7 separate regions of the Homo sapiens genome follow, and all the other regions are linked to region 5. Evidence: fine-mapped expression QTL. A gene starts in region 5. Each other region holds a variant in brackets. All regions are shown on one strand. Distances are between the middles of the regions.

Evidence for each region.
Region 1: its variant is fine-mapped to the expression of MYO7B in visceral fat (GTEx, PIP above 0.99).
Region 2: its variant is fine-mapped to the expression of MYO7B in whole blood (INTERVAL, PIP above 0.99).
Region 3: its variant is fine-mapped to the expression of MYO7B in whole blood (INTERVAL, PIP above 0.99).
Region 4: its variant is fine-mapped to the expression of MYO7B in whole blood (TOPMed, PIP above 0.99).
Region 6: its variant is fine-mapped to the expression of MYO7B in blood mononuclear cells (TOPMed, PIP above 0.99).
Region 7: its variant is fine-mapped to the expression of MYO7B in whole blood (TOPMed, PIP above 0.99).

Annotation. Positions count from the first base shown.
Region 1 is chr2:127,663,593-127,667,657 of GRCh38, forward strand. All of the region lies in intron 1 of LIMS2 (LIM zinc finger domain containing 2), which reads right to left. Among named protein-coding and RNA genes, the nearest start is that of LIMS2, 9.9 kb to the right of the region's middle. RefSeq lists an enhancer at 1-312. The variant A/G (reference allele first, on the strand shown) is at 1,579.
Region 2 is chr2:127,618,788-127,622,852 of GRCh38, forward strand. MYO7B (myosin VIIB) reads left to right here. Exons shown (of 48, transcript NM_001393586.1): 27 at 1,553-1,679; 28 at 3,195-3,314. Among named protein-coding and RNA genes, the nearest start is that of MYO7B-AS1, 10 kb to the right of the region's middle. RefSeq lists an enhancer at 1,412-1,461. The variant G/A (reference allele first, on the strand shown) is at 2,201.
Region 3 is chr2:127,397,786-127,401,850 of GRCh38, forward strand. It overlaps MAP3K2-DT (MAP3K2 divergent transcript), which reads left to right. Exons shown (of 4, transcript NR_187129.1): 4 at 162-2,795. Among named protein-coding and RNA genes, the nearest start is that of MAP3K2, 12 kb to the left of the region's middle. RefSeq lists an enhancer at 2,693-3,405. The variant AG/A (reference allele first, on the strand shown) is at 1,549.
Region 4 is chr2:127,572,750-127,576,814 of GRCh38, forward strand. MYO7B (myosin VIIB) reads left to right here. Exons shown (of 48, transcript NM_001393586.1): 7 at 1,171-1,313; 8 at 3,846-3,959. Among named protein-coding and RNA genes, the nearest start is that of MYO7B, 39 kb to the left of the region's middle. The variant C/T (reference allele first, on the strand shown) is at 2,250.
Region 5 is chr2:127,533,780-127,537,844 of GRCh38, forward strand. It overlaps MYO7B (myosin VIIB), which reads left to right and starts at 1,904. Exons shown (of 48, transcript NM_001393586.1): 1 at 1,904-2,052. RefSeq lists an enhancer at 1,936-2,786.
Region 6 is chr2:127,479,836-127,483,900 of GRCh38, forward strand. It overlaps IWS1 (interacts with SUPT6H, CTD assembly factor 1), which reads right to left. Exons shown (of 14, transcript NM_017969.3): 14 at 977-1,340. The coding sequence ends at 1,209. Among named protein-coding and RNA genes, the nearest start is that of IWS1, 45 kb to the right of the region's middle. RefSeq lists an enhancer at 1-923. The variant C/T (reference allele first, on the strand shown) is at 1,684.
Region 7 is chr2:127,562,128-127,566,189 of GRCh38, forward strand. MYO7B (myosin VIIB) reads left to right here. Exons shown (of 48, transcript NM_001393586.1): 3 at 2,026-2,139; 4 at 3,106-3,258. LOC105373609 (a long non-coding RNA gene) reads right to left here. Exons shown (of 3, transcript NR_132317.1): 2 at 2,561-2,660. Among named protein-coding and RNA genes, the nearest start is that of MYO7B, 28 kb to the left of the region's middle. RefSeq lists enhancers at 1,519-1,568, 1,879-1,978. The variant A/T (reference allele first, on the strand shown) is at 1,615.

The sequences.
Region 1 (4,065 bases), 130 kb after region 5:
ACCTCTGCGACTTATGTTCCTGGCTCCCTCCCTGCCCCCCCGCCCCAGCCCTTCTGCCCAGCCTTGGCCTCCTCCCCAGGGTCCCTATCTGTCACCTTGATGCCAAGGACCCCAAGGTCACAGCCCTATTGCTCTCTCTTCCCCGCTGGCCCCTCGGCACTGCAAAGGCAACATTTTCAGGAGCTCCTCCTCATGCCCCTGACCCCAAGAGTGAGGGGAGGTGGCTCCACCACCATCCCCGTGCCCCTCCCAACCTCCCCATCCAGAGCCAACTCATTCTCTGAGATGCCCTGAGGACCATCCTGAACCCCACTGCTGGAGTCAGTCTAACCTGGGTTCAAATCACAGCATAGCCATGTTTGGGGTGGGTGAGTCCAGCAGGTGTCTGCTCTGCTCAGAACCTGTCTGCTCATCTATAAAGTGCAGCATGATCACCCCCGTCTGAAAGCAGTGCTGGGGGCTACACAGGCTCCCTCGTCTCTAACATAGGTCCCTGGGCGCACCCTGCCAGGAGAGCTGATCACAGGTGACATCCAACCCTGTTAGATAAAGTCGCACGCGCCCACCCTGTCGCCAACCCAGGGCCCATCCGACGCCGGGGCAGAGCCCACGGCGTCGGAGGGCCCCGGTCGGGTTTCCGAGGGAAGGCCTGCCCTGCCGCCGCAGCTTTCCGGCCATTGTCCCCGCCACCCGCCCCGCCCCTGGCCACCTACCCCGTGGCTGGCGGCGGGCTCTGCCGGTGCTGGCGCCGCCGGTACAGCCCCGACGCGGCCAGCGCACCCAGCCGGGCCGCCATGGCGCGGGGCAGCCGCCTTGAGGTCGCGGGCGCGGGCCGCCTGGTGCAGGGGCTATGGGACCACCTCGGAGGGGAGGCGCGGCCGCCTGGGGCCAGACACCAAGACGGGACGGGCGTGTGGGCGCCTCCCCCGCGCTGGTCGCGAGCTCACGTTACGCGCTGGGATCTCCAAAGGGCAGCAGAGTCAACTCCAAATAGAAAGGATATTGTTCGCGCCGCGGGGGCAGCTCCTGAAAGCTGAGGCTGGCGGGGGTTGGGTCCCGCTGGGAGGGGACTGGTCTGGGAAGGCCCCAGACAGCACTGAGGTGAGGTCCACAGTGGCGGCAGGACACCCAGGAGGTCTCCGGCTGCCACCTGCCAGGAGGAAAGCCTGTGCCCGTGGACACACTGAGGAGGGCAGAGTCAGCTGAGGAGGACAGGGAGGACCTGGCGCCTTTAGGATCCCTGCCAACAGTTAGGAAACCGAGGACCGGAGCCACACAGGCCCACATTCTGCTTTGCTCCCTTCTCTGAGACCCTCTGCCACAAACATCACCGTGGGGCACCCAGACCAGGGCAGAGCCGATCCTCTGGATCTGGCCAACAAATGGTCAGGCACCCCAAAAGAGGTCCTTATTTTAGAGAAAAGGCAATCCTCCAGCTTCCAGGGGAGCAGACGCAGAGGGACCTGGTGGCAACCACCAGGAAGGCACCATGTACCCCGCATTTTTACCCAGAGAGACTGGCAAAGTTACTTGTGATTCATAAACACCCGCGGTAGGCATCCAAACTGTGACCAAGGT[A/G]AGCCTGGTCAGCAGTACAATAAAGATCCAGAGCACTCATGGAAATCTTTAGCATTGATCCCATTTCCCTGAAAGACCTTTCTAGAAAGGTCAGAAAGCTTGAGCAGTATCTTCTTCTGCCTTCTGAAAGCAAGAGCTGGCAGCCGTCACTAAAGACAGCAGGGCACTGATCCTCCCAAACTAGGGTGGGAGAAAGCCTTGGAGGGGCTCACTGGCATTCAGATACCAGGCCCACACGCCACTGAGGAACACACTCACCCAGCAAGTCCCAACAGGAGGAGGTACTCATTAAGCACCCTGGCAGTCAAGTGACGACAAGCATTGGGTACAGTATAATTTGTAAATGTAGTCCAATTCCAAAGTTGCCCAACACTGATCAGTTCAACAAATAGTTTTTAAAGGTGGCCCCAGGGGCTAAAGGGCATGGAGAAGCTGAGCCCAGAGGAGCCAAAATGAATAGGGAATACCGCTGACTCTCTGATGTAGGTAGCCGAATGCTTAAGAAAACTTACACCGAAAATGTTCTTAACAGCAGCTACAAGTCAATGCCATAGGGCCTAGACCCTCTCACCACTCCCGACTCAGCCCATCCATGTGGAAATCCTCAACACTAGAATCCAGGACTCTCATGCAGACCCGCAGTTTTCTGTAAGGAGGAAACATTTATTTAGGGCTCCAAGGGTCACATATAGCACTGGAAAGGAGGCTACAGCCACAAGTGTTTTGTGCAACATAATCTGTAAATGAAGTTCAAGCACAAGTTTACCAAGTACTAATCAATTCAACAAATATTTACTATAAAAGCGGACATCGAAGGCTAGAAATTGAGAGAGGCTTAGAGTCTGATTGAGCCCAAATCCCAAATCTCTGCACAACCTTACCACCCATTCTGCAGCCTGTCCTGCTGCAGGGATGGGATTGGGAGCCACAGATACTGTAAACTGAATCTAGAACTCTATACAAAGTATTATACACCATGACCAAATGGGATTTGGTTCAGTGCTCTGGCTCTAGATATTTGCAAAAACACCGAGAGTGATGTCAGCAGAAAGTGGTGGAGTAAGGACCTCCAGAAGTTCATCCCTCCATAAAAGCAATGAAAAACCTAGCAAAAATTATCAGAATCTACTCTTTCAGAACTCTGCAAATCCACCAAAGGTTTTCAGTAACCCTAGGAACATTTGGTCAAGAAAAACAGATGAATCTTGGTAAACAAACAAACAAACACAAACCAGTGAGGTTTGTGTTGTTTTAACTTATCCTAGTCCCTTATTCCTGCTCCCTAACTCCATGGCTTCCTTGAATAATAATAGCTCGTGGTCCCAGTAAGGAGGTAGCAGAATGGAATATTATGAACAACTGTATGCCAATAAATGAAATAACCTACTGAAATGGAGAGATTCCTAGAAGGACACTACCAAAACGAACTCAAGAAGAAATAGAAAATCCAAATGTATCAGTCTAAATTTTCATACTGCTATTAAGAACTTCATGAGACTCGGTAAATTATAAAGGAAAGAGGTTTAATCGACTCACAGTTGAACAGGGCTGGGGAGGACTCAGGAAACTTATAGTCGTGGCAGAAGGCAAAGGGGAATCAAGGCACCTTCTTCACAAGGTGGCAGGAAGAAATACCAAGCAAAGGGGGATGAGCCCCTTATAAAACCAGCAGATCTTGTGAGAACTCACTATCACAAGAACAGCATGGGGGGAAACACCCCCATGATTGAATGACCTCCACCTGGTCTCTCCCTTGACACGTGGGGATTATAGGGATTACAATTCAAGATGAGATTTAGTTGGGGACACAAAGCCTACCCAAATCACTTAGTAAGGCCAGTAACATGTAAAGAGACTGAGACAGTAACCAAAAAACTTGTCACAAAGTAAAGCCAGAGCGACATGGCTTCACTGATGAATTATATCAAAGGTTTAACTAGAATTAACACCAAACCTACAAACAAACATACAAAACACCAGTGTGGTGGCACATGCCTATAATCCCAGCTACTCAGGAGGCTGAGGCAGGAGAATCACTTGAACCTGGAAGGCGGAGGTTGCAGTGAGCTGAGATCACGCCACTGCACTCCAGCCTGGGTGACAGAGTGAGATCTTGTCTCAAAAAGAGAAAAAAACAAAAAACAAAAAACAACAAACCTTCACAAAATCTTTCCAAACAAAAGAAAAGAAAGACTAGGAGGGAATACTTCACAACTCATTCTATAAATATTATCTTGATCTCAAAATAAAATGCTAAAGTCACATAGATGCAAATGTCCTCGATAAAATACAATAAATCTAACACTCTATAAAAAGTATTATACACCGTGACCAAATGGGATTTATCCCAAGAACATAGGGTTGGTTTCACATCCAAAATTCAATGTAATATACCATATCAATAGAATATAGGGAGGACACTCTATGACCATCTCAACAGATGCAGAAAACACATTTGGCAAAATCCAACATCTTTTCATAATAAAA
Region 2 (4,065 bases), 85 kb after region 5:
TCTTGATCATATTTGACTTCCAGAAAGACCTCCCTGGCGATGTGGCAGGATGGAGCCTGGGGCTGGGAGGCCAGGCAGGGCTGCTACAGAGATCCAGAGAGAGCTGATGAGGAATTGCCCAAGGAACAGGAGCCAAGAGGAGGGGACAGAGGAAACATGCAGGAGACAGATGGTAGCATGTGGGCACTGGTTGGATCGTGGGGGCTGGTTGGATTGTGGTGGCTGGTTGGGTTGTGGGGGCTGGCTGAATGGTGGGCGCTGGTTGGATTGTGGGGGCTGGTTGGGTTGTGGGGGCTGGTTGGGTTGTGGGGGCTGGTTGGATGGTAGAGGCTGGTTGGATTGTGGTGGCCAGCTGGATTGTGGGGGCCGGTTGGGTTGTGGTGGCTGGTTGGGTTGTGGTGGCCAGCTGGATGGTGGTGGCTGGCTGGGTGGTGGGGGGTGGTTGGGTTGTGGGGGCTGGTTGGGTTGTGGCCAGTTGGATGGTGGTGGCTGGCTGGGTGGTGGGGGGTGGTTGGGTTGTGGGGGCTGGTTGGGTTGTGGGGGCTGGATGGTGGGGGCCGGCTGGGTGGTGGGCGCCAGCTGAGTAGTGGGTGCCGGCTGGGTGGTGGGGGCTGGATGGATGGTGGGGGCTGGTTGGATTGGAGGAATGAAGGGATGGGAGGGCTCCAGGATGACCCCCAGATTTCCAGTTTGGGTGAATGGCTGATGGCGATGCCTGTAGACCACAGAAAGAGGAGGGATGCAGGAACTCAGAGAGCCAGCCATGCACATTGCTTCCCATCTCTGTTCGGTGATGTCGTGTCGCAGTTGACATTGGCTTTGGTGGGAACATGTACACCACAGAAATAAGCAAATGCTGTGAATTGGGCTTTTCTTCTTGGGGGAGCTGGTTGATAAACATTTACCAGCACACCACTGAGTATTAGGGGAAAGATGCTGGCCTCTGGAGATGTGGCATTTGAGGTGTTAATGGGCCACTTTTATAACATGATAGAGGCTTGAGTCCATGGGGAAGGACGCAGGAGAGAACCGCCCCCAACACACCCCCACCAGGAGTGGGGAGGCTCCACAGACCGTGGGAGTAGGAATGGTCAGGAGATGGGGTTGAGTGGCTCCCATGAAGTCCTCACTTTTCTCTCTGCTGTGGAGGGGAGGGGCTGCATTCAGGGAGGGAGGTGGGGCCTCAAGGCAGAGAGAGAAATGACTGTAATCACCGTGAGACTGGGGATCCCGCACATCTGGGAGCAGATGGGCTGTGCAAAGGGCGCGGCTGCTGAGGACAGGGCTGTGGCTGGAGAACCTGCTGCTTCCTGAAGCCGAGCCCCACCCTAAAGGACCGAGAGCACAGGCCATGGGAGAGGAATCGAGTAGGGATGCAGAGCCTGGTGGCACTGTCCTGAGAGAGGAGGAGGCTGGGCAGGGCCCCGGCGCTGGAGAGGTGCCCTGCATATGGGACCTCTCAGAGGTGCACAAGAGCTGTGTGCCCAGGTACCCCTGTCTCCTCTCCTCCTCCAGCCCCCAGCCTACTCTCCTAATGGTCTGTGTCTTTCAGGGATGAGATTTACTGCCAGATCTGCAAGCAGCTCTCGGAGAACTTCAAAACAAGCAGCCTGGCCCGGGGCTGGATCCTGCTCAGCCTCTGCCTCGGCTGCTTCCCACCCTCAGAGAGGTTCATGAAGGTGAGAGGGTTCATGAAGGGAGGGCGGGCAGGGGGCAGGTTCTGGTGGGAGCGTAGGTGGCCCCTGGCCCTGGAGCAGGTCCACAGATTCCAGTACGTGGCCCATTTCTCCTGCTCCTGCAGGCCAGATGGGCAGCCATGCCTATGCTTCTCCAGGACTCAGTTTCCCCATCTGGAAAAGAGGACCCTGCTCCTGGCTCCTTCCAGCCCCTACGCAGGGTCTGCAGGGCCATTTCACTTTGGCTCAGGTGTCAGGATGGTGCTTCAAGACTAAAATGAGAAGGTAGATGACACGGGCCTTGAAAAGACAGGTGTCCAGGAGTGGGCCCTGCCTGGAGATGTGCCACGGCACCTCTTTCTAGTTCTTAGGACTGAAAATGGAGCTGGGTTGGCCGAGTGTTAGTGGCCCCAAGCTTCACTGATTTAATATGCCTTTAAATTCTGATTATAAAAGTAATATGTGGAAATGCAGAACATCTAAAACCAAAATAAAAGTCACCCCCACACTCAGAGCTAACTTCC[G/A]TTAATATTTCCTTCTGGCCTTTTGTGGTGTTACAGGGTCCTTGTGATCAAACAGAAAACACTTTCTCACATGTCCCTTTGGGGACAGCAGGAACCACGGTCACTGAAGCCATCTGCGCATGGCACTCAGGCTGCTCCTGACACCAGTAAACCCTTCCAGGCTGTTCCTCCCCACCCCAAGGCAGAAGAAATAACATCTCTCTGTGAGACAAAAAGAACTTCAATGTGTTTTCTTGAGCATGTTGGGGACATGGACTCTTCTGCAATTTTTTTTTTTGTTTTTTTTTTTTTTTTGAGACGGAGTCTCACTCTGTCGCCCAGGCCAGAGTGCAGTGGAGCGATCTTGGTTCACTGCATCCTCTGCCTCCCGGGTTCAAGCAATTCTGCCTCAGCCTCTCGAGTAGCTGGCATTACAGGTGTGCATCACCACACCAGGCTAATTTTTGTATTTTTAGTAGAAATGGGGTTTCACCATGTTGGCCAGGCTGGCCTCAAACTCCTGACCTCAGGTGATCCTCCGACCTTGGCCTCCCAAAGTGCTGGGATTATAGGTGTGAGCCACCATGCCTGGCCCTGCACTTTTCATTTACTGTCTTCATTATGTTTTCTCATGGTGTCAACCTCCCAAATGCCAGCTTGATGCCTCGCTGTTCCAGAAGGCACTGGGGTTGGGGGTGGGCATTTAGAGTCCATCTTCCAGTCATTCATCACCATAGAGGCCATCACAATCAAAAACCACACATCCACCTTTAGGATAGGCCTGCATTGTTGTGACAAAGAGTGTGCACACATCAAGACTATGCACCGTTTAAAACGTGTTGCCAAACTGCTCCTCAGAAACACACTGATCCATGTTCCTTCTAACGGGTGTGAGGGTGCCCCTCAATGCACATTATACACTGAGTATTATAATTCTTAAGTCCACCTGGGTGGTGAGTAGAAACTGGCCTCCTTTCTGAGTGTCTTCCTCCCTTCTCCCCTCCTCACCCACCAGTATCTACTGAACTTCATCGGCCAAGGGCCGGCGACCTACGGCCCCTTCTGTGCCGAGCGCCTGAGACGCACCTATGCCAATGGGGTGCGTGCGGAGCCCCCCACCTGGCTGGAGCTGCAGGTAGGGGCTGGCAGGGGTGAGAGCGGGCAGGGTGGGGTGGTGCAGACCCCCAGGGACCCCCAGCACAGCTCATGGGGTGCCTTCTCCTAGGACAGAACTTTGTCCTCTGAGCCCCGCCATCTCCTCTGCAGTACCTCCCATGCCAGTGGTCCCTGTGAGTGCCCCTGGGGCTCGGCCTCCCCAGGCGTGACCCCCATCTCCAAATCCATATTCCTTTAGGGCCCTACTAGCTAAGGGGAAGATCACCGGACCCACTCATTAGCATTACAGTGCGCCAGTTGCTTCCAGCACTCCCCTCCAAGGGCATTTCACTTGGTGACAAGGGCAGTAGTCACACCATGGTTGGCATCCTTGGTGGCATTGCTATTGGGCACATGTGCCACCTCGACCTGCTTTGGCAACTGTGTCATCTGTGAATTCTCGCTGTTTTCTCAGGAAGGGTCATTCAGAACAGCCAGCCAGGGTGGCGAGAGCACACCTGCACCCGGCTCTACACAAAGCTCTGGCCCCAGCCTAACCCCGGCAGGTGCCCGCCCTGTGACCCGAGGTGCCCTATACCAGGAGCTGTGGGTCACTTCCGCTGCACCTTCTTTCTGTTCTCACCCTGCCCCCGAGCCCACAGGGGCTCCCTCCCACGAGCCCTGGAATTGTAGGTGAACTTGCAGTAGCTGTGCATGTTGACACAAGGGAACAATACGTAAAGGCCCCAAAATGTTCCCGAGTCCTGGACTCAGATTCCCAAGAGCTCCTG
Region 3 (4,065 bases), 140 kb before region 5:
AGTGCACCATCCAGGGGGTCCATGTTGCAGAAATGAGTGAGGAGGTAGTTATCTTCATCCTCACAGCTCAGCATATGCCTCGACCCAGTGCGATGTAGATCCTTCCCCAACTGCTTCCTGCAAGTCAAGTCACAAAGGTTGGCATTGGTTCTTCACCATAGGCTAGCCTGGCTGAAGCTCAGCTGCACAGAGTCTGTCCTGAGAAGCAGAATGCCACTGTCCCCTGGGCCCTCCAGACTGCCAAGGCTGCTCAGTTTCAGAGAGCAGGCTCCCTGTGGCCTCACACGCCGGCTGCCAGCTGGGCCAGGTAACTCTGGCCAGGCTGCACTGTGAAGAACACGAGAGTCGGCGGAGACCTGTGCCTGCTCTTCTCAGCCTCAATGTCTGGAAGACAAAAAAAGGCATCCTGCTCCCAAGATTGTGGTGGAGGCCAGCAGGGTGACGCACATGAAAGCCACTGGAGATAGATGGCACTTGTTCCCACCCACTGCCCACAACAGGCCCAGGACTGCCTCAGCCCCGGTGGACCCCAGAGCCAGCAGGCCCTTCAGAATGGAAGGTGCCAAACACCATCGGAAGGCGTGGTTCTTTTCAGAGAACCAGACTCTGAGACTGTGGCCTCCCACTATGAGTCACCACCTCTGATTCCTGAGGTCCCCTCCAGTCATTGGCTCTCTCCCAAGCCAGCCAGCTGATCAGCCTTGAGGACAGCAGAGTGTCTGCCAAGAGAGATCTGTGAAGTTTCCCATCACCGTGGCAGTCCACAATGTGAAGCCCCTGAGGCCACCCTTCTCCATGTGTCCCCCACACTGTCCCTGACCCTCCCACCATCCTAGAAAACCAGCCTCCCAGGTCCTCTGTCATGGAAGTAATTTACAGCAAGGCAGAAAGAGCTGAAAGATTTATAAATGTGTAAAATTTACAAAGGTGTTTCTTTCTTTCTTTCTTTCTTTTTTTTTTTTTTTTTTTTTGAGGCAGAGTCTCACTCTGTTGCCCAGGCTGGAGTGCAGTGGCACAATTTTGGCTCACTGCAACCTCCGCCTCCCGGGTTCAAGTGATTCTCCTGCCTCAGCCTCCCAAGTAGCTGGGATTACAGGTGCATGCCACCACGCCTAGCTAATTTTTGTATTTTTAGTAGAGACAGAGTTTTTTGCCATGTTGGCCAGGCTGGTCTTGAACTCCTGACCTCAGGTGATCTGCCTGCCTCAGCCTCCCAAAGTGCTGGGATTACAGGCGTGAGTCACCGTGCCCGGCCTACAGAGGTGTTTCTGAGTGGAGAAACCACTGCCTGGTTGGACTGACTGCCCAGTTCCACCACCCTGTGAGCCCATGAGTGAGCTCACTGCACTTGTTATAGACATCCTACCACCAGCAGCCTGATTTTGCTGAGTCCGTAGCTTACAACTCCAATCTCATGGCCCTGCCTTTCACCTCACTTGCTGCCTTAAAAACCTGCAGACTGAGGTGGCGTAGAAGCTGTGACATCCCAGTACCCAGAAGTTCATCTCACACCCAGATCTTGGTTTCTAAATGTCATTCTCTACTAAA[AG/A]GGACCAGGGCTGGTACAGGAGAAGAGCAAGAGCTTGGAATATCTTATACCTGAGAGTAAGGAAGTGCTCAGAGAATCACAGGAGCACGTTAAAAGGACATAGAAGTCAGTTTAATGAGACTGCTTCTGGCCAAAGTTGGAACACATCAAACATTAAAACAATGATGGTAATGGATTAGATTCCATAGAATAAAATCCTTGAGGACATAGTTATATAAACATAACTGAGGAAGAAGGAAAAGCTCTCCCTAACAGAATAATACAACTAGTAAATGGGAAAGGAAAGGAGTTAGGAATTCACGCTGGGTATTGAAACTAGTGGGTGAAAGCTCAATGAATCGGATTCTTAGTCTCAATGTCTCTCCTCTCAATTTAGTAATTATAGTGGAGTAATCATGACTTTACAGTGGAGAAACCTGGCCAACACTACCTTCACAACACTAACAAAAACCTTGCAGACCTGCAGCCTAAGCTCCCAGAAGTCACCTGCTGAAATGCCTTCAAAGAGTGACCTCTCTGCGTGTAGTGCTCAGCAACTTGGGCTCAGTGTCTATTTCCACAAGCTACAAACCAGAATACAGTGGAATTCAGCCCATATGTGGTAATTTATCTACCAATCAAGGACCTTTGACTCCAAAAATTACCTTTTTTGTACAAGTGACTACCTGGTGTAGAGCTCAGACATGGCTTTGAATTTTTGCCATGCTGTGTGAGCTCAGGCAAGCTGCTTCACCTCTTTGAGCTTCAATCTTTTATCTATAAAATGGGAATAACAATAACTTAATGAAACAGCAATTCCAGTGTTAGGTATTTCCTCAGGAGAAATGAAAACACGTTCACACAAATAATTGTACATGTATGTTTCTACACGCTTTATTCATAATAGTCATAAACAACCTAAATATTCATCAACTGGTTAGCAGAGAAAAGAGCAAACCACTGATGACATGAACGAATTTCAGAAGCACTGTGCTCAGTGAAAGAAGCCAGACAAAAATTACATCTTACATAAATTTCATTTATATGAAATTCTAGTGAAGGCAAAACATATAGCCAGGGGCCAAGAGGGGAGGATGGTCTGCAAAGAGGCAGGAACTTCTTCCTGGGGTGATGGGAATATTCTGTGTCATGAACATCGTGATTGTGGTTACAAGACTATACTTTTGTCAAAACTCATCAAATTGTACACCTAAAATGGATGCATTAAGCCTCAATACAGCCAATAAAAGATACCTACGTTACAGTATCTTCTGAGGAGTAATGGGGTGATATATATGCAGCCCCAAGTTCAGTGCCTGTGGTGAGAGGAGTCCTAAAATAGTACCTGTGACCACGCCCCACGGTCTTAGACCTGGGCAGGGCAACTGTGCAGACAGCAGGCCCAGCCAGGAAGCAAGCTGGCAAGGCGTTCTGCAGCGAAGGTGAGTACCAGTGATGCAAGGTGGAATAAGAAAAGTGCCCTTTGGAGGAGTCACTTATGAGGGGAATGGGGAGCAGGGCAGCAGAGGCCCCTCTGCTGCTGGGAACCGGGCGCACTCCCGCCAGTCGCAGGAGCTGGCTCCACCCGCCCCTTCTGATCCAGTGTCCCGCAGTCCTGCCCGCTTCACCGCCCTCGCCTAGCCCCCGCGGGTGGTAAAAGTCCAGCCCGGCGGAGCGCCCCTGCCTCCTTCCACGCCCCTGGCCTGCCCTGCGCAGCTACGCCCAGCCCGCGTCCATCCCGGACCATCCTGTTGAAGGCAGTCCCCTGGCACGCAGGGCTGGGAGCTCTTAGCTGAGGATGGAACCGACTGCACCAGGAGCCGCTGGGAGGAAGGCCGAGGGGCGCAGAGGAGAGGCAAGGAAAAAACAGCAGCCCAAGAATCGGGCCTCCCTGTTACAGCAGGAGTCGCATCTATTTATATATGTTATGTCTTATTGCTCAGCAACCAGCTCTCGGCCGGGGCGTGGGCCGGGAAGAGGGGTCTCCTGGTGCAGCGGGTTGGCGTGACTCATCACCGCCGCGCACTCTGGCCTCTGGGCCTAGGTTAACAGACTCCCGGGTTTCAGGCTGGGCCCAGGCGGCCAGGCCCTCCCTGCTGAGGAATCTGGGTTGGGGCAGTGCCAGCTCCCTGCTTCTCACCTGGCCACAGAAGGGGTAGCGGGAGGAGCGTGGGTTCATGGAGGCAGGTGGACCACCCCTTGGCTCCTGGCTCTGCCACCTGTCCACTGTGTAGCCCTGGGCGAGTCACAGCCTCTGACATCAGCCTGCTTATACTGTAAAAGGAGTGTGAGATCATGTTGGAGGAGACACTACAGTGAAATCTAAATACATTTTAACTCTTCACACACCCTCTCCCATGCATTTGACAGCGAGGAAACTGCAGCCCGGGGCAAAGTTGACTCACTTCCCAAAGCCAACTAATTTGTACTTAGAAGAGGCAGGATTTGAACCGGGGCCTCTGTGGTTTAGAGCCCTGTGTATCTTATCACTGTAACGCCTACCTCATGCCCTCAAAATGCCTACCCATCCGAGGGGT
Region 4 (4,065 bases), 39 kb after region 5:
TTATCTTCAATTCCCCTCTCTGTCTATTCTTTCACCAGTGCTACACTGTCTTGATTTCTATAGGAAGCGGTGCAATCAGATAGCATGTGCCCTCCAATTTTGTTATTCTTTTTCAAACTTGGCTATTCTAGGTAATTTACCTTTCCATATATAGTACATTTTAAGATCAGCCTGTCAGTTAGTACCAAAAAAAAAAAAACTGCCTGCATCAGATTCTTTCTTAAAGAGACACCCAACCAGTCGCCCCCATGATGGCCACACTGGGTTCAATAAGTTAAACAGGTTTCGTAATGGTGGCACTTCTCAGAGGCTCTGCTGTGCATTGGGATTCCTCGAGAGAGAGACAGGGTGCCGTGTTTCCTAAACCTACTTCCCCAAGGAACCCTTTTCCTTCGTTTCATGGGACTATGCTGGATGCTGGTATTCTGAAACTGCATTCTAACCATTAATGGGCCATAAAATCAGTCTTCTAGAACAAATCAAATATCATAGAATAGAAACACCCCAGCACGTCACTCTTCATAAGAACTAGTACTGAGTATTTTGTTCTAACTTTGTGTGTGCAGGTGGACATGTGTATATACTAGGATGTAATGCAAAATATCTTTCTTACTGTGGATCACATCAGAAAACTTGCAGAAACAGCTTTACAAAAAAGACTGACCACTTCCGTGTGCCCTGGCCTGGACACGCTGTTGGCACTCCCCATGCCGGCTTGGCCTCTCCGTATCAGCCTCAGCCCTGCAACCTGAGCCATCTTTCTAAGCTGTGAATCTGCTCCCACACTCTCTCAGAAGCTTTACTGCTTCCCTTATTACTGCAGAATGATTGCCCAAGTTCTGAGCCCGGCATTTAAGGCTCTGTGCCACCTGGCCCTACCTACTAACTAGTTCTGTCTACCTTCCACTGCTTTCCTCCTGCATCCCACACTCTGACAAGATTTCTGCGTCTGCAAGCACACTCCATGCTTTTTCTGACCTCCGAGGTTTTCCCTGCATTTTTGTCTTCCTCTTAGCGGGCGCTTGGCTTCCGTCACTGTCTGGTGCAGCCGTGCCCATTCTTCAATTCGAGGCTTGGCCACCTCCTCTGAGAAGCCCTCTTACATGATCCCACTCAAATTACATTTTCTCCTCTCTGCTCCCATCATGGGCATCGCCCGCTTACCTTCAGCCTTTGGAAATGCCAAGACAATCCGCAACGACAACTCAAGCCGCTTTGGGAAGTACATTGACATCTACTTTAACCCCAGCGGGGTGATCGAGGGCGCGCGCATCGAGCAATTTCTCCTGGAGAAGTCCCGGGTCTGCCGGCAGGTGAGGCCTCCCCCTTCCCAGGTCGGGAGTTGAGGGAATGGGGGAGGTTTCCAAGAGGGGCCCCTTTCCCACTCTCACCTCTCCTCCCCTCTTCCCCAAGGGCCCTCCCAGAACCCACAGGCCTCACTGGATAATGAGGGCCCTTCCCCAGTATTCCAGGACAGCAAATGATAGAAATTTTTCCATTTTGAGCAGGGCTTGGTGGCGCACGCCTCTAATCCCAGCACTTATGGGAGGCCAAAGCGGGTGGGTTACTTGAGGCCAGGAGTTTGAGATCAGCCTGGCCAACATGACAAAACCCTGCCTCTACAAAAAATATGAAAAAAAAAATTAGCTAGGCAGTGGCACACGCCTGTAATCCCAGCTACTTGGGAAGCTGAGGCATGAGAATTGCTTGAGCCTAGGAGGCAGAGGTTGCAGTGAGCTGAGATTGCACCACTGCACTCCAGCCTGGGCAACAGAGTGAAACTCTGTCTCAAAAAAGACTTTTCTCCATTTTGAATTTTCCATTCACATACATTTCTTCTTTCTTTGGTGCCTACCATTCCTCATCCCTACTAGAATTAATTCTGAGACTAGGCTAGTTGGGTGGGCCGTATCTTCAGGTATGTTAGGGGACATGGCAGAAAGACACAGATGACAGTATCCCAAATACCACATGGCCAGGAAGTACAGTGGCATGTGGCCTGTGTTGTCACACCAGGCCCTGTGCTCAGGGGGCCCCATGCTTGGTTTCATGCTCTGCTATTGCCACCTTGAAATTCTTACTAGCTTTTTAGCAAGAGGGCCCATGGTTTCCTTTTGCACTGGGCGATCATGTAGCCAGTCCCAAATGGTAGGAATCCCAACACATGGCACCCACAACAGCAGAATTAATGCACCTGTGTGTGTGTGTGAGTGTAAGGGGGTGCTCTCGTATGATGGCATAACACCTAA[C/T]ACATGCATGTGTGCAAATGAGTGCACACACACAGAAGGGGTCCAGAGGGGAGAATGCCACCAACAGAGGGGCTGTGGCTGTGTGAGAGGGACAGATGCCTCCGCACTGTGACAAGCTGAGAAGGAAGGTCACATTTAGTGACCCTCCGACCTGGTGCTATACTTTTCCTGTTTTATCTCATTTGACCTTCACAACCATGAGAGGTAGGTCTCTTTATCCCTATTGTACAGATGAGAAAACTGAGTCCAGTTAAGTTCGGCCCCTTGTCCAGGGTCACAGAGCCAGCAGATGGCAGAGTCTCTCTGCCCTGTCTGGAAGCTCCTATTTCTTGATATAGTGGTTGCTGAGTTCATAGAACTTGTCACCCAAAATGATACCCTGAAATGGGCAGGAAATTTCTAAAGCAGGTGAGAAACAAGGCCTGCCCAAGAAAAGAGAAAGAATTTAAAATTACGGCATATCTATACTACAGAGGAGGCGGTCTGTCCATGTCAATGTAAAGGATCACCAAGAGATATGTTTAGGTGAAAAAAAAGGAAGTAGCAGAACCACAAATATGTTTTGTGTAAAAAAAAAGAAACAAAGAAAAGAAAAGAGATAACTATTTATAGATATACTATAAGTAAATGTTTTTTTAAAAACATGTCTAGGTTCTGGGGCGGGGAGGAGGGGATTTAAGAAAGGGGAAGGCAGGATGGAAAGGAGCTCTCATTTTTTTGTTTTTGATCCTCCCACCTCAGCCTTTTGAGTAGCTGAGACTAGAGGTGTTTACCACCACATCCAGCTAATTTTCTTATTTTTTGTAGAGGTGAGGTCTCACTATATTGCCCAGGCTGCTCTCAAACTCCTGAGCTCAAGTAATCTTCCCGCCTCAGCCTCCCAAAACTGCTGGGATTACAGCCCAACTGAGACTCCCATCTTTTAACACTACTGCATATGCTTCAGATTGTTTGATTTGTATGAGAATGCATTTATAAATAGTGTTTTAAAAAATACAGAAGGCACCCTAGGCAACATGGCAAAACCCCATCTCTACAAAAAATACAAAACTTAGCCGGACGTGGTGGTGTGTGCCTGTGATCTTAGCTACTTGGTAGGCTGAGGTGGGAGGATGGCTTGAATCCAGGACTTCGAGGCTACAGTGGGCTGAGATTGCACCACTGCACTCTAGCTTGGGTGACAGAGCAAGACCTTCTCTCGGAAAAAAAAAAAATACTGAAGGCCTAGGGAGCCCCGTGGCTGTCAGATCTCTCGTGGGCCACTAAGTGCCTGTGAAGACTGTGGGACTATAAGAGAGCCCCGACTCTGTGCCATCACTCCTGGCCTGGAGACTTTGGGCACAGCAGTGTCAGGGCTTCGAGGAGCAGTCAAGATGCAGGGAAATGGAGTTCTCAGGGCAGGGATGAGACAGCCGCGGAGGCCCGGGACAGGGACAGCAACCAAGCCAGGCTGGCCCTGGGTCAGTGCCAGAGCTGCTCCTGGCTGAGAGATGTGGAGCGGAGGCCAGGGCTGGGCTGGGCAGAGGCAGTCTGAGGCCCTGAGGCCTCAGGGGAATGGCTCATGAATCTGTCTGGAATGCCCTCCCTCCCTCCCAGGCTCCCGAGGAGCGGAACTACCATATCTTCTACTGCATGCTCATGGGGGTGAGTGCTGAGGACAAGCAGCTGCTGAGCCTGGGCACGCCCTCCGAGTACCACTACCTGACCATGGTGAGCTGCCCACCTGCCGCCTCCCAGTAGCCAGTGGAAGGGAGGAAAAAGAGCTTGTGCCGCTCCACCCTCCGCGACAGCTGCAGAGAAGCCCAACGCTGGCCGG
Region 5 (4,065 bases):
TCTCCACCTCTGCAGCTTGTCCACCTCTCCTTTTCTCTCCCACCACCGCTTGGTCTGTGTCCCCACGAAAGGTCCATGTTCAGGGTTGCCACCCTGCCTTGACCTCAGTTCTAAAAGACGATGGCTCATTCCCACATTTCTGCCTGCAGTTCCCAAGTCCCTCCAAGTCCAAGGAAAAGAAAGGAATCTGATTGGCTCTAGTTGGGCCAACTGTAAGGATGACCAGACCCCTTTTTTACCCAACACAAGGCCTGTGGCTGACCAGGTAACTACCTGCCCCTATTATCCACCCGCCTTCAAAGCCTTGCATAAATGAGCTCCCCTCGCCCTCCTGCTCACTTCCAGGGACTGCCTGGCCCCTCCAGTCTGACCCCACCCAGGGCCCACTGCGGTTGCACTTCCCTTCTAAACAGTCTGTATTTGCCTTAAGCCCAAATCCCCCTTGATCAAGTGCCAGCCCAAGCCTGCCCAATTTGTTGCCAGGTACCCTCCTGGGAACCTTGTTGTCTGATGGCCTTTGTCTCTAAGGCTTCCTGATGGCCCCAGACATGTCCCAGGTGTATGCTCCTTTCACACTCAACACAGAACACTCTCTTGACCAGGTGTCCAAGCAGTTCTCCAGCAGACTCCGTCTGGATGTCCTATAATTCAATTCAATCAGACACTGTCAACCTGGAGTCATAGATCCCACAGGTTAAGGGCTCAGTCCCACAAAACTGCCCCACTTCAAATGCAGTCTCAAGTCCTAGGTTGCCACCTATACTTCTGACCAATTGGCTATAAATCGGGGTTCCCATGCCCCACACCTGAGGTTGGATTTGCTAGCATAGCTCATGGAACTCAGGACGGCACTCATATTGACCAGTTCGTGGGAAAAGATTTTACAAAGGATTACAGATGAGCAGCCGAATAAACACGCACAGGTGAGTTGTGTGGGAAGGTCATGGAGCTTCCATGCCCTCTCCCGCATGCCACCCCCCAGGGACCTCAGATGTGTGGAAGCTTGTCAAATCTTGTTCAAGAGTTTTACCTTCCCAGAGGTCAGTAGGCGGGGCTGAAAGTTCCAACCCTCTATTCACTAGGTCTTTCTGGTGACTGACCCCATGCTGAGGCTAGGTAGGGCCCCCACATGGTCACCTCCTCAGCATAACTTCAGGTGTTATCAAACGGACTCATTATGAGATGATCACTTGGGAAATTTTTTGTTTGTTTGTTTGTTTGAGACGGAGTCTCGCTCTGTCACCCAGGCTGGAGTGCAGTGGCCCGATCTTGGCTCACTGCAAGCTCCACCTCCCCGGTTCACGCCATTCTCCTTCCTCAACCTCCAGCTGGGACTACAGGCGCCCGCCACCACGCCCAGCTAATTTTTTTGTGTGTGTGTTTTTAGTAGAGATGGGGTTTCACCGTGTTAGCCAGGATGGTCTTGATCTCCTGACCTTGTGATCCGCCTGCCTCGGCCTCCCAAAATGCTGGGATTACAGGCGTGAGCCACCATGCCCGACGATCACTTTGGAAATTCTAAGGGTTTTAGGAGTTCTGTGACACCAACCGGGAACAAGGACCAAATATACTGTATTTTATATTATACTACCACCCTCAATTAGAGCTTGGGGTGCTTGGGGGCAGAGCTCCTGCCATGCAGCACCTGGGAAGATGCTGAGCCCCCGGATGGTCAGCTGACTGTCACCATGGGATCTGGCTGGTGGCCAGAGCAGGTGCACAGACTGCAAACCCTGGTGGCCTCCGGGCAGCATGCATCGCTGCTCTGCAGAAGGGGCCTGGGTTAAAGAGCAGGTATCATGAGGCTCTGCCAGCTGGGGCTGAGGGAGGCGTGTGGGAGTGGAAGTGCCTGGAGCCCAGGGACAAAGTCCTGTAATAAATTACGTGGGCCCAGAGTGCTCCCAGTCATTTCCTCTTGGAGCCCTACCTCTTCTTCCTCTGTCCCTTACTCCCTGACACACCCGGAGTCCCAACATTGCCTCCTTTCCTGGCTCTTTCAGGGTGCCCAGGGTGGAGGGGAAGGGGAGTCAGCCAGACCCCCATCCTGACAAGGTAAGGGCGTGCCGGGGGCGTGTCTGCCAGCGGGGAGTAGGGGGTCACCTCTCTGAAGAGGGTCGCTGGGCAGGAGGCAGGTCCCCTGGAAATAAGATGGAACAGGTCTGAGGGATAGAGAGTGGAGAAGCCCTTCAGGAGCCTGGAAACCAGAAACCGCAGCAGGGGACTCAGTCCATCGGGCTGAAGGGCAGCACCTGGGGGGCTGAGGAGGAGGAGGAGGGGGAGAAGCTGTCTAGCCCTCTGCTGTAGAAGGGCAAACTCCCTGCAGGAGGGGAACGGCAGGTGCCAAGGCTGCTCCCACCCTGAAGCCTCCTCACAGCTAGAGGGCCTCACTGTGGAATCATGGGACATCATGGATAGCCTGGGTCCCATGATGAGCCCCTGCCAGATGTCAGCTGTGCCGTGTGTGACATCCCACTGCGTCCTCGCAACACAGTGGTGGAATTGCCTCCATTTTATGGACACAGAGACTGAGGACCATGGAAGCGAAGGTGCCCACGGGAAGAAGCAGAGCCGGATTCGACTCCAAAGCCCAGGCTTATCCGCCTTACCCATGTACCTTGGGCAATTGGCTTTAGTCACCTCTGGAAGGCTGGGACCCTAGGGAGAGGCAGGACAGGTCTGGGGTGTGGTGGGGGGGGGGGTGGGGGAAGAGGTGGCTGAGGAGAGGGACCGCACCGGGGCTCACATGGGCTGTCCCCCTTGAGCTGTCCAGGTGGTGTGTGTCCCATCCCCATTTCACAGAGGACGAAACTTGAGACACAGAGATTGTGAGAGCTGGCCCAGGTCAGACAGCTGGTGGGTGTGGGGCCCCCAACCCAGATCCCCCAAATTCTCCATGACGAGGCCTCCCCTTCAGGCTCCACTTTGTAACCCTGGACTTGAATTTTGCTCTAATTTATCAGAACCCTGCACTTTGTTTAGGATTTTAGTTCAGAGATTCACACACACCCTCAGTGAATCATTGTTAGGAACCACTCAGCTCATCAGCCCACCCCATCTCCCTGGACCTGCTGGGGGCCCTACGTCTGTCCTCAGATGCCACCTCTAAGAGAATCCTCCCCAGGCGGCTGTCTTGGGGCCTGCTGCATCCACAGCTCTAGCACGGGGCTCTGTGGAGAGGCGGCACCACAGGGATGACCTATATGTGTTGATATTGCTTCCTGTTTTACATATGTCAAAAGACAAAATTATAAAAAATTTATCTTAAAGATCTTAATTGGCTTTTATTTGCAATTCTAGAATTGGGCAACACCCCACTTATAGAATACAATGAATGATCTGATGAGCCGAGCAGAGGAGTTTGGCTTTATAGACAGAATGGGGCTGAGAGAAACAGAAAACAAAAGGGGATTAGTCATTTCAATTTATTTTCCTTGTAAAGGATAGAGCTGAGGGAACTTCCTTATCATGCCCGCTGAAACTGGCCTGTCTGGGGCTCCAGCTATTGTCTCTCTCCTGATTCTTGGAAGGTCAGATAACCTTCGTTTGGGCCTGGTGGTGTGGAACTTCAGCATGAGTGACTCCATTTTGGTCTGGTCTGTTGGCCTTGTGTAGGAGCTCAGACAAAACCAATGGCCTCCATACATTTTACTTAACACATGTATTTAAATGATGTTTGTGTGCCCATTCTTGGTCCACATACCAAGCTGTTCAGGGAGGAAGAGCCAGAATCTTAGCACATTTTTCACAGAAGAGATGAAGAAGGGTAAAGGAGACTGGGCATGGTGGTGGCTCATGCCTGTAATCCCAGCACTTTGGGAGGCCGAGGTGGGAGGATTGCTTGAGCCCACAACATGGGGAGACTCCATCTCTATAGAAGAATAAGAAGAAGGAATAGGAGGAGGAGGAAGAAGAAGAGGAGGAGGAGGAGGGGGAGGAGAAGGAGAAGGAGGAGGAGGAGAAGGAAGGATTTGACCAAGGCCACTGGACTATGAGCTCCTCGAGAGCCTGGGCTGGGTTTCTCTGGGGTTTTTCCATCTCCTGCACATGCCCAGGCCTCAGCAGAGA
Region 6 (4,065 bases), 54 kb before region 5:
AGTTATATCCATATTTCCTTGAAGACAGTAGTATTTCTTGATCTTTTCTCTGTTATAAGCCCCCATCCCAGAGAAAAATGAAAATCAAAATAATTATCCCAAATAAGAGAAACACATTAATAAGATTTTGTTGGTATTCCATTTCCACCCCAACTGAGGTACTGCAATTCAATTCTGATACGACACACCCAGAGCTGGCATCAGACTCCACGGGTTTAAGAGGTCAGTCCTCCACAATACTGCCCCCACTTCAGATGCAAGCCACAAGTGAGGCATCCAGGCTACTGTCGCTTCTGACCAGCTACAAATTTGGGGTTCTCATAAACCTCTCAGGTTTAAGAACTTGCTGAAATGACTCACAGAACTCAGGAAAGCACTATCCTTCCCTAGAAAACACTATGATTAGTTTTACTACAGAAGATATGAATTAGGAGGGCCAGTCAAATGAAGGGATACATAAGGGAAGGTCTGGGAGGGAAGGCAGAGCTTCTGTGCCCCTGTCCTCATGGAGGGGAATCCTCTCCCTCCCAGCACACCAATGCTTTCACCAACCAAGAAGCGTCATTGAGCTGTGGGGTCCAGAGCTCTTCATCAGGTCCCATTTGGCAGGCATGGTTGATTAAATCAAACAGGTCACTGACTGCGTCTCAATCTCCCGGGTCCTGCTGGCCCAACCCTCTGTAGTAGCTGTTTCTGGTTACCAGCCTCCACCCTAAAGCCCACCATACAGTCACCTCGTTAGCATAACAAGAGACGCTCTATCACTCAGGAAACCACAAGTGTTTTAGACATTCCTTGTCAGCAACCAGGGGCAAAGGCCACACAAATTCCTCATTATACCACAATGAGGGAGGATTGAACCTCTAAGGGTCACAAACCCCTATAATATCATAAGATTTTTTCCCACACAACAAGAAACAATCTTTGCCCCTATTAAGAATGTATCCTCTAAGAAATGAAGAGACAGCCCCCCAAAAACCAGAATGAAATTTTATTGTGTAAAGTTTATAGAAGTATGACTAGTATTCCTTTGTACAAAGTACACAACGGTTTTAAATATAACTGAGAGAAATGTGAGTCCTATGACAACATCTGATACACGCTGAACCATTTACAGACACACTAAAAATGTTTTAAAATATCTTCTTTCTCCAAAGAGTCCATTGCGCATTTCTTAGAGTAGAGATGGGGACACATTCCAGGCAAGGTCACAATGGCATTTTGTTGCCCTCAATGCTGATTTTCACTGCGTGTGCAGATCTGCTTTTTTTCCTTATATCTGTGAACTTTCTCATCTGTTTATCCAGTCGACTGATACCCTTCTTGGAGGTCGCCTGAAACTAAGAGTAAGGGAAAAATTAAAGAGCAAACTACTGAAATACGTAAGTCTAGTTATGTCTTTCATCTTCTTATAACTGAGTTAGCAACCAGAAGAGCTTCTAGCTCTGGAATAACCAGAATGTGTGTTGATGACCTCAAGAACAACAAAGCAAGTATAGATGGTGTTAGAAACGCATATTAAACTCTCTCAGTGAAGAATAATTCTGTTGTCTGTGCTTTATTTTTAATTTTGCTGCAGTCCATGGAGGTCTCCTAGATGGGAGAAAGGGGGGGGGAAACTGAGACTATGATCCTCCCAATTCCATCATGTACATTACGTTTTAACTGCATGCGTTTCCCTTT[C/T]GAAGACCAAATGTGGAGCTAGCCGCTTGACATGCACTTTCAAACAGTGCTGGCATAAAAAAGAATGACCTAAAGCAAAGTCAGGTCAGCTGAGAAAAAGCCTTAAGCATAATAAATGAGGTTAGATGATTAGTGAAGTAAACCCCTAAGTGCAGGAGCTCTTGAGTTTTTACACTTGGGGTGAATCCCTGCTCTAATTCAGTAACTTCTGTGACCCTGGGCAAAGCATACCCAGGGTAGGTACTCCTTCCAGAACTGCTGAGAGAAGGAAATGAGATAGTGATGTCAGATCCAAGCACAGAGGCTGAGCACATATAGTCAGTGCTCAAAATAATAGGAGCTATTACTATTTTACTACTTCACAAGCAACTAGATTTACATTAAGTATACTTGACACAAAAAGAATATTAAGTCTTTACCCATTTGCCCTTCATGTTTAAAGGTTTGGTTTGGGGGCTATTTTATATTTTGAAAATACTGCCTTGCAAAGATGTGGTCTCCAAGAAACTGCCATCTTTTAGAAATGCTAGAAAGGTTTGCTGACTCTGTTGTAAAACAATTCAGATGTTTAAGAATGATGACTGCTTAAAAAGAGATGGGTTTTTCTAATTCTTCTCCCCATACATTTACTACTGAATCACCTCTGAAACTCAATTCAAAAGAATGCTAAAATAAGGTAGGGCCTGGGAGACACTCTGGGGTCAGTACCAGCCTGGTGAGCTTTGGTGGAATCTTATCCCACCTGTGGACCCAGCCTCAACTATGACATGAAGCCAGCTGAGCACTAGGCAAGGAACTCTAAGTCATTCTTGACCAAGAGCCATGTTGACCTGTCTTTCTAGGAATATCTCAATTCAAATATTATTCTGTATCGTCTCAATACTTGGCATTCGTACTCTGAGTAAGCATAAAAAGTGTCAGATGAGAAAGAGCTATGCCACCATCACACTATCTCCCAGATTTCCTGGACAGTCCCAAATATCTGACTTCCTTTTAGAGGATGTGCCGTGATCTTAGTACTTGTACTTGGTCCACATCGGAAGCTTTACCTGCTCAAATCTCTGCCAACTACACAATTCCCAGCAGCTTCACACATTAACTGGACTTCCCTTCGCCTACTCCCAGGACCCTCACTAACTGTCTAAGCCCTGATGGATCTGTCTAGCCTCAGCAATCAGGGCACACACGGGCCAGTGGGTTACAAAATATATGACTGGTAGTTGCAGATGCCTACTTACCCCAAGCTTGAAAAGACAGACCAGAGTACCTCATACACCAAGTTCAATGATCTCTCTCCTGATTCATCAAGGGAACGCTACACTTCCTTAGAAATTAAGAGTGTGTGCTACACTGCTTTACCAGAGCAAGGCCAAAAGCAGCTTCAATTATGGTACAACTGTGTGAAGACACAATGCAAAACCACTCAAGAATGCTCACTCAAATGGATTTTTACCATGGTAAGTAAAAAACAAACCCAATAAGGTATAAAAGAATACAATCACAATGTCGCTTGAAAAAAAAACAAAAAACAAAACAAAAACCCAGTAATTGTCTATGCATATGTATGAAAAAAAAAGAAATAATTTAAAATGTTAACATTAAGTTGTGGTGGGATTACAGATGGCATTAATTTTATTTATGCTTTCTGTATTTTTAAAAGTTCATGAAAAAATAGGCATTCCTTTGTCATTTTACTGTTATTTTAGAAGTATTCCACGGAGTAAATGAACATATAAAAAATACAATGTAGCACAGGTTACTACATTATTTAGGAGTAAAAAATCAGAAATCATAAACGAACGAATAAACACATTATATTCATGGCCGGGTGTGGTGGCTCCCGCCCGTAATCCCAGCACGCTGGGAGGTCAAGGCCAGAGGATCGCTTGAGACCAGCCTGAGCAAGATGGTGAAACCATCTCTACAAAGAAAGAAAATACATAATAAAAAAAAAAGCAAATTATATTCAGGATAGACCATTATGCAGCCATTAAAAATGATAAATCGACTAGGTGGTTTAATGAAGGAAAATAACCAAAATTATAATTTGGTCGGGGCGGGGGGTGGTGGGGTGGGGGGGTTGGGCTGTGTGTGTGTGTGTGTGTGCGTGTGCGTGTGTGTGTGTGTGTGTTTTCTAGAGATAGGGTCTCACCTAGGCTGGAGTGCAATGGCATGATTCTAGCTCACTGCAGCCTCAAACTCCTGGGCTCGAGTGATTCTCCTACCTCACCCTCCCAAGTAGCTAGGACTACAGATGTATGCCACCATGCCCGGCTAATTTTTTAATTTTTTGGTAGAGATGGAGTCTTGCTATGTTGTCCAGGCTGATATTTAGTATAATTTTAATTAACGTTATCAGTAGAAAAAAGACAACAAATACAT
Region 7 (4,062 bases), 28 kb after region 5:
AACCTTAATTACCTCCTTGAAGGCCTTATCTGCAAATATGGTCATGTCAGGAATTGGGGCTTCACTATATGAATTCTGGAGGGACACAATTCAGTCCATATAATGAGGTTTACTTGTATTTTTGCCCATCTTCTATAGCGATCTTCTTCCTAATTCTAATTTTATTTTATTTTTTATTTATGTATTCTTTTTTGACAGAGTCTCTGTCAGCAAAGCTGGAGTGCAGTGGCACGATCACAATTCACTGCAACCTCCACCTCTCAGATTCAAGCAATTATCCTGCATCAGCCTCCTGATTAGCTGGGATTACAGGCGCCCACCACCACGCCCAGCTAATTTTTGTGGGGTTTTATTGTTTTTTTTTTTTTTTTTTTTTTTTGAGACGGAGTCTTGCACTGTTGCCCATGCTGTTGTGCAGTGGCATGATCTCGGTCACTGCAACCTCTGCCTCCCGGGTTCAAGCAATTCTCCTGCGTCAGCCTCCCATGTAGCTGGGACTACAGGTGCTTGCCACCACACCCGGCTAATTTTTGTATTTTTAGTAGAGATGGGGTTTCACTATGTTGGCCAGGCTGGTCTTGAACTCCTGACCTTGTGATCTGCCCGCCTCAGCCTCCCAAAGTGCTGGGATTCCAGGCATGAGCCACCACACCCAGCCAATTTTTGCATTTTTTTAGTAGAGGCAGGGTTTCTCCATGTTGGCCAGGCTGGTCTCAAACTCCTGGCCTGTCTTGGCCTCCCAAAGTGCTGGGATTACAGGTGTGAACCACCACATCCAGCCCCTAATTCTAATTTTTTAACAAATTCTATATCATTTTGCTCACTTTTCTCCTTCCTACCTTTTATGATTCTTCCCATGTTTTTATAATCAGGGTATGTTCTCCTGCTGTTTCCAATTTTGCTTTCATTCTGGTCTGCATTTCTTTCATTTCCTCAATTTTTTCATTCGGCTCTGCCAACTCATGTCTCATCCTTTTTCTCAGTTGTCCCCCATCTAATTCCTGGGCTCTTTTGCCTCTGACCTACTCTTTGGTCAGTTTTTGTAAATTATGGTGAAATACTTGGTCACAACTTCCTACTGCTCTGTGGCAGTTATTTCTCTTTTGCTGAGTATTATTTGCTCCTTTCCTCCTCTTGGGTTTCAGTACCTCCGAACACAGAACTGTGCTGGTTCCTTTTGGATTACTTCTCTTCAGATGGGGTGAGCTTTCTTGGATTAGAAGGAGGTTCATGAGGTGTCAATGCCACAGTGCAGGCTAGCAGAAATCTCACATGTGAATTTTTAGTAGTGGCTTCTCCCACCCAATAGATCTGGGTACTGCAGAGCTTTTCACAGGGCAAGACTTCTCTTTTCCCACCCCACAGAGAGACTGCTTCCTGCAAATATGGAAGACCTGCAAATATGGTGTTTCCTAGAACCAAGACAGGCCAGGCAAGCTCCGCCTGCCACCTTGTGCCCTTGCTCCTACTGCTGCAGCAAGACATGCTGCTTTTGCATGCCAGGATGGGCTCCTGCCTTGGAGAAGTGAACTTTGCCCTCTCTTTCTGGAACCTACAGCTGGGGCCACCTTTTCAGCTTCCTCCTGCGTCTTCTAGTGCTCGTTTCTGTTTCTC[A/T]TCCTCCTATTGCTTGTGGGTGATTTCTGAGAGGATGCAACTCTTGCTACCGTCATCAAGCTTGAGAAGCACTTTCTCTCTTAACCACTCAGCCACACCACCTTCCTAAATAGTAGCCAAGTTTCTTTTTCATTATGAGAGGTGCTGTGGTGAGACCAGAGCTCCTGTTCTTGTCAGCTTATTGTCCCAGACAAGACAAAGACATGGAGAGAAGCTGTACAGGCGCTTGGTACCTGCCCAGTGAGCAGGGAGAAAGAGAGATGGGAGAGGGGAGGAGAGGAAAGGAGAGACAAGCTCCAGCCACCTTGGGAGCTCTGGGCTGGAAGGCATAGCCCCGAAGAGAAGTAAGTATCCAGCAGGGAGGGGAAGAGAGAGCGGGGATCACACCACTGTCTTCTGTCTGCCCTCCAGGGTGACCACGTGTGGCTGGAGCCTCCCTCCACCCACAAGACCGGCGTGGCCATCGGGGGCATCATCAAAGAGGCAAAGCCAGGCAAAGTCTTGGTTGAAGATGACGAGGGCAAGGTCAGTGTTCTGGGGTTTCCTCTGGGCCCTGCCCTGCCCTCACATCCAGGGCCCTGGAGCCCTCCCCGCCCTGTGGAGCCTCTCCCCAACACCAGGGGCTCCAAGGCCAAGTGGGGACCTGGGTGGCAGGACAGATCACGGTGGAGTCCTGCCATGGAGAACATGGCCTGTGTGTCCTGGGGAACGTTTCAAGAAGGAAGTGGGAAGTGGGAAAGGGGCTCTGGAAGGGCCAGAGGGGCAGAAAGCCAGTTTGCAAAATGAAACGGGCAAGGGGGAAAGGTGGGTGAGGAAGGTGTGTGGAGGGGCAGGACGGGGCAAAATGCACAAGTAAGAGGCCAGCAAGCTGGAGTGGCCCGGGAGTGACCAGCTCGTCCACCAGAGGGGTCAGGGCCAGCTAGGTGGTGAGCAGGGAAGGGCTTACAATGGAGTGTCCAGCCGGTCACTTAGCTCCTCAGATTGTCCTCTGTGCTCAGCTGGGTGCTGCAGGCTTAGCCTCCAAGGAGAAGTTTCTAGGCTGTGGCCTGTGAGTTCCAGATGATGGAAGTCAGTAAAATAATAACAATATCTTCTATTTGTGTGACACTGTAGTTTTTTAAAAAAGCTTTTACTTGCACAGTCTTATTCCAACAACCTGCAAGGCTCCCAGCTGCAACCTGACCCTAAATCTAACTTCTGGCTATAAGCTCCTTTGTCCCTGGTCTGAAATTCAGCCCTAGCCCCAGCTACGCCCTAACCCTGGGCCCTAGACCCATGCTGACCCAGCCATAGATGGACCGGATCCTGCCACAGGAGTCTCTTGACCCTTGTCATAGACTGACCCTGGCCGGAGGCTGGCCACTGCCCCAGGTCAGCTGATCCATGACCCGGAAGGTCACCTTGCTGCTGAGAACTTGGAGGGGAGGGTGTGGCAGGCTGGCCATGGGGATGGAGGCCACCCCTCAGGGGAGTCTGCACCCATTGTTCCAGGAACACTGGATCCGAGCAGAGGACTTTGGTGTCCTCAGTCCCATGCACCCCAACTCAGTCCAGGGTGTGGACGACATGATCCGCCTGGGGGACCTGAACGAGGCAGGCATGGTGCACAACCTCCTGATCCGCTACCAGCAGCACAAGATCTATGTGAGTCTCCCCAGCCCTGTGTCCACAGGGGAGCCCCTCACAGGTGCCAACCTCCTGGACAGGGAGAAGAAAATGATGCACAGGGGGCACTGCCCCCCATGCCCTCACTGAGGGAGGTGGGCGAGGTGCCTAACTTTTCCCAATCTCTGCTGCCCAGTCCCAAACAAGGAGGGTGATCCCACCCTGGAGGGGAGGAAGCCAATGCGTAGAGTGACAGCACAGTGCCTGGCACAGTCTCTGCTCAGTGAGGGCTGCAGATGGCCATCAGGTGGCCATCATCCTCTGCCCTCTCCTTCCCAGGCATGTTGTAGAGACAGAGTCACTAGACAGAAAGCCCCTGGCCTCCCAAGAGTGAGGCCCGTGACAGCCCAGATCCCAAGGTCCTGATTCACCAGACGAGGGGGCCATGGGGATGGATGTGGGCCCTCCGTGCAAACCTGGCCTGGATGGAGGTTCACTCCAGCCTGAAGCTCTCATCCTGGTTCCAATGCAGATTTTTCCAGGGGAGGTGGTATTCCAAAACCGACACCAGTTCGGCCTAAGTAGGTGTGGCCTGCAGAAGCCACTGCCTGCCTGGGCCTCTCTGGTCTGGAGGGGTGGCTAGCTTGGTTCTGACTGGCCCTTCTGGGCTGCTCAGAGGAAAGCAGCTTGTGCTTCCAAAGGGCTTTTGCCTGCACTCCTCATCTGGTGGCACAGCCTGAAGCCAGAGGGCACGTCCTCTCCTTTCCTAAAGTGAAAACCAGGACACCATGGTCATGTGGCTTATTGTGCAGGCTCTGCCTGCCGCACCCCCTGAGGGGCAGT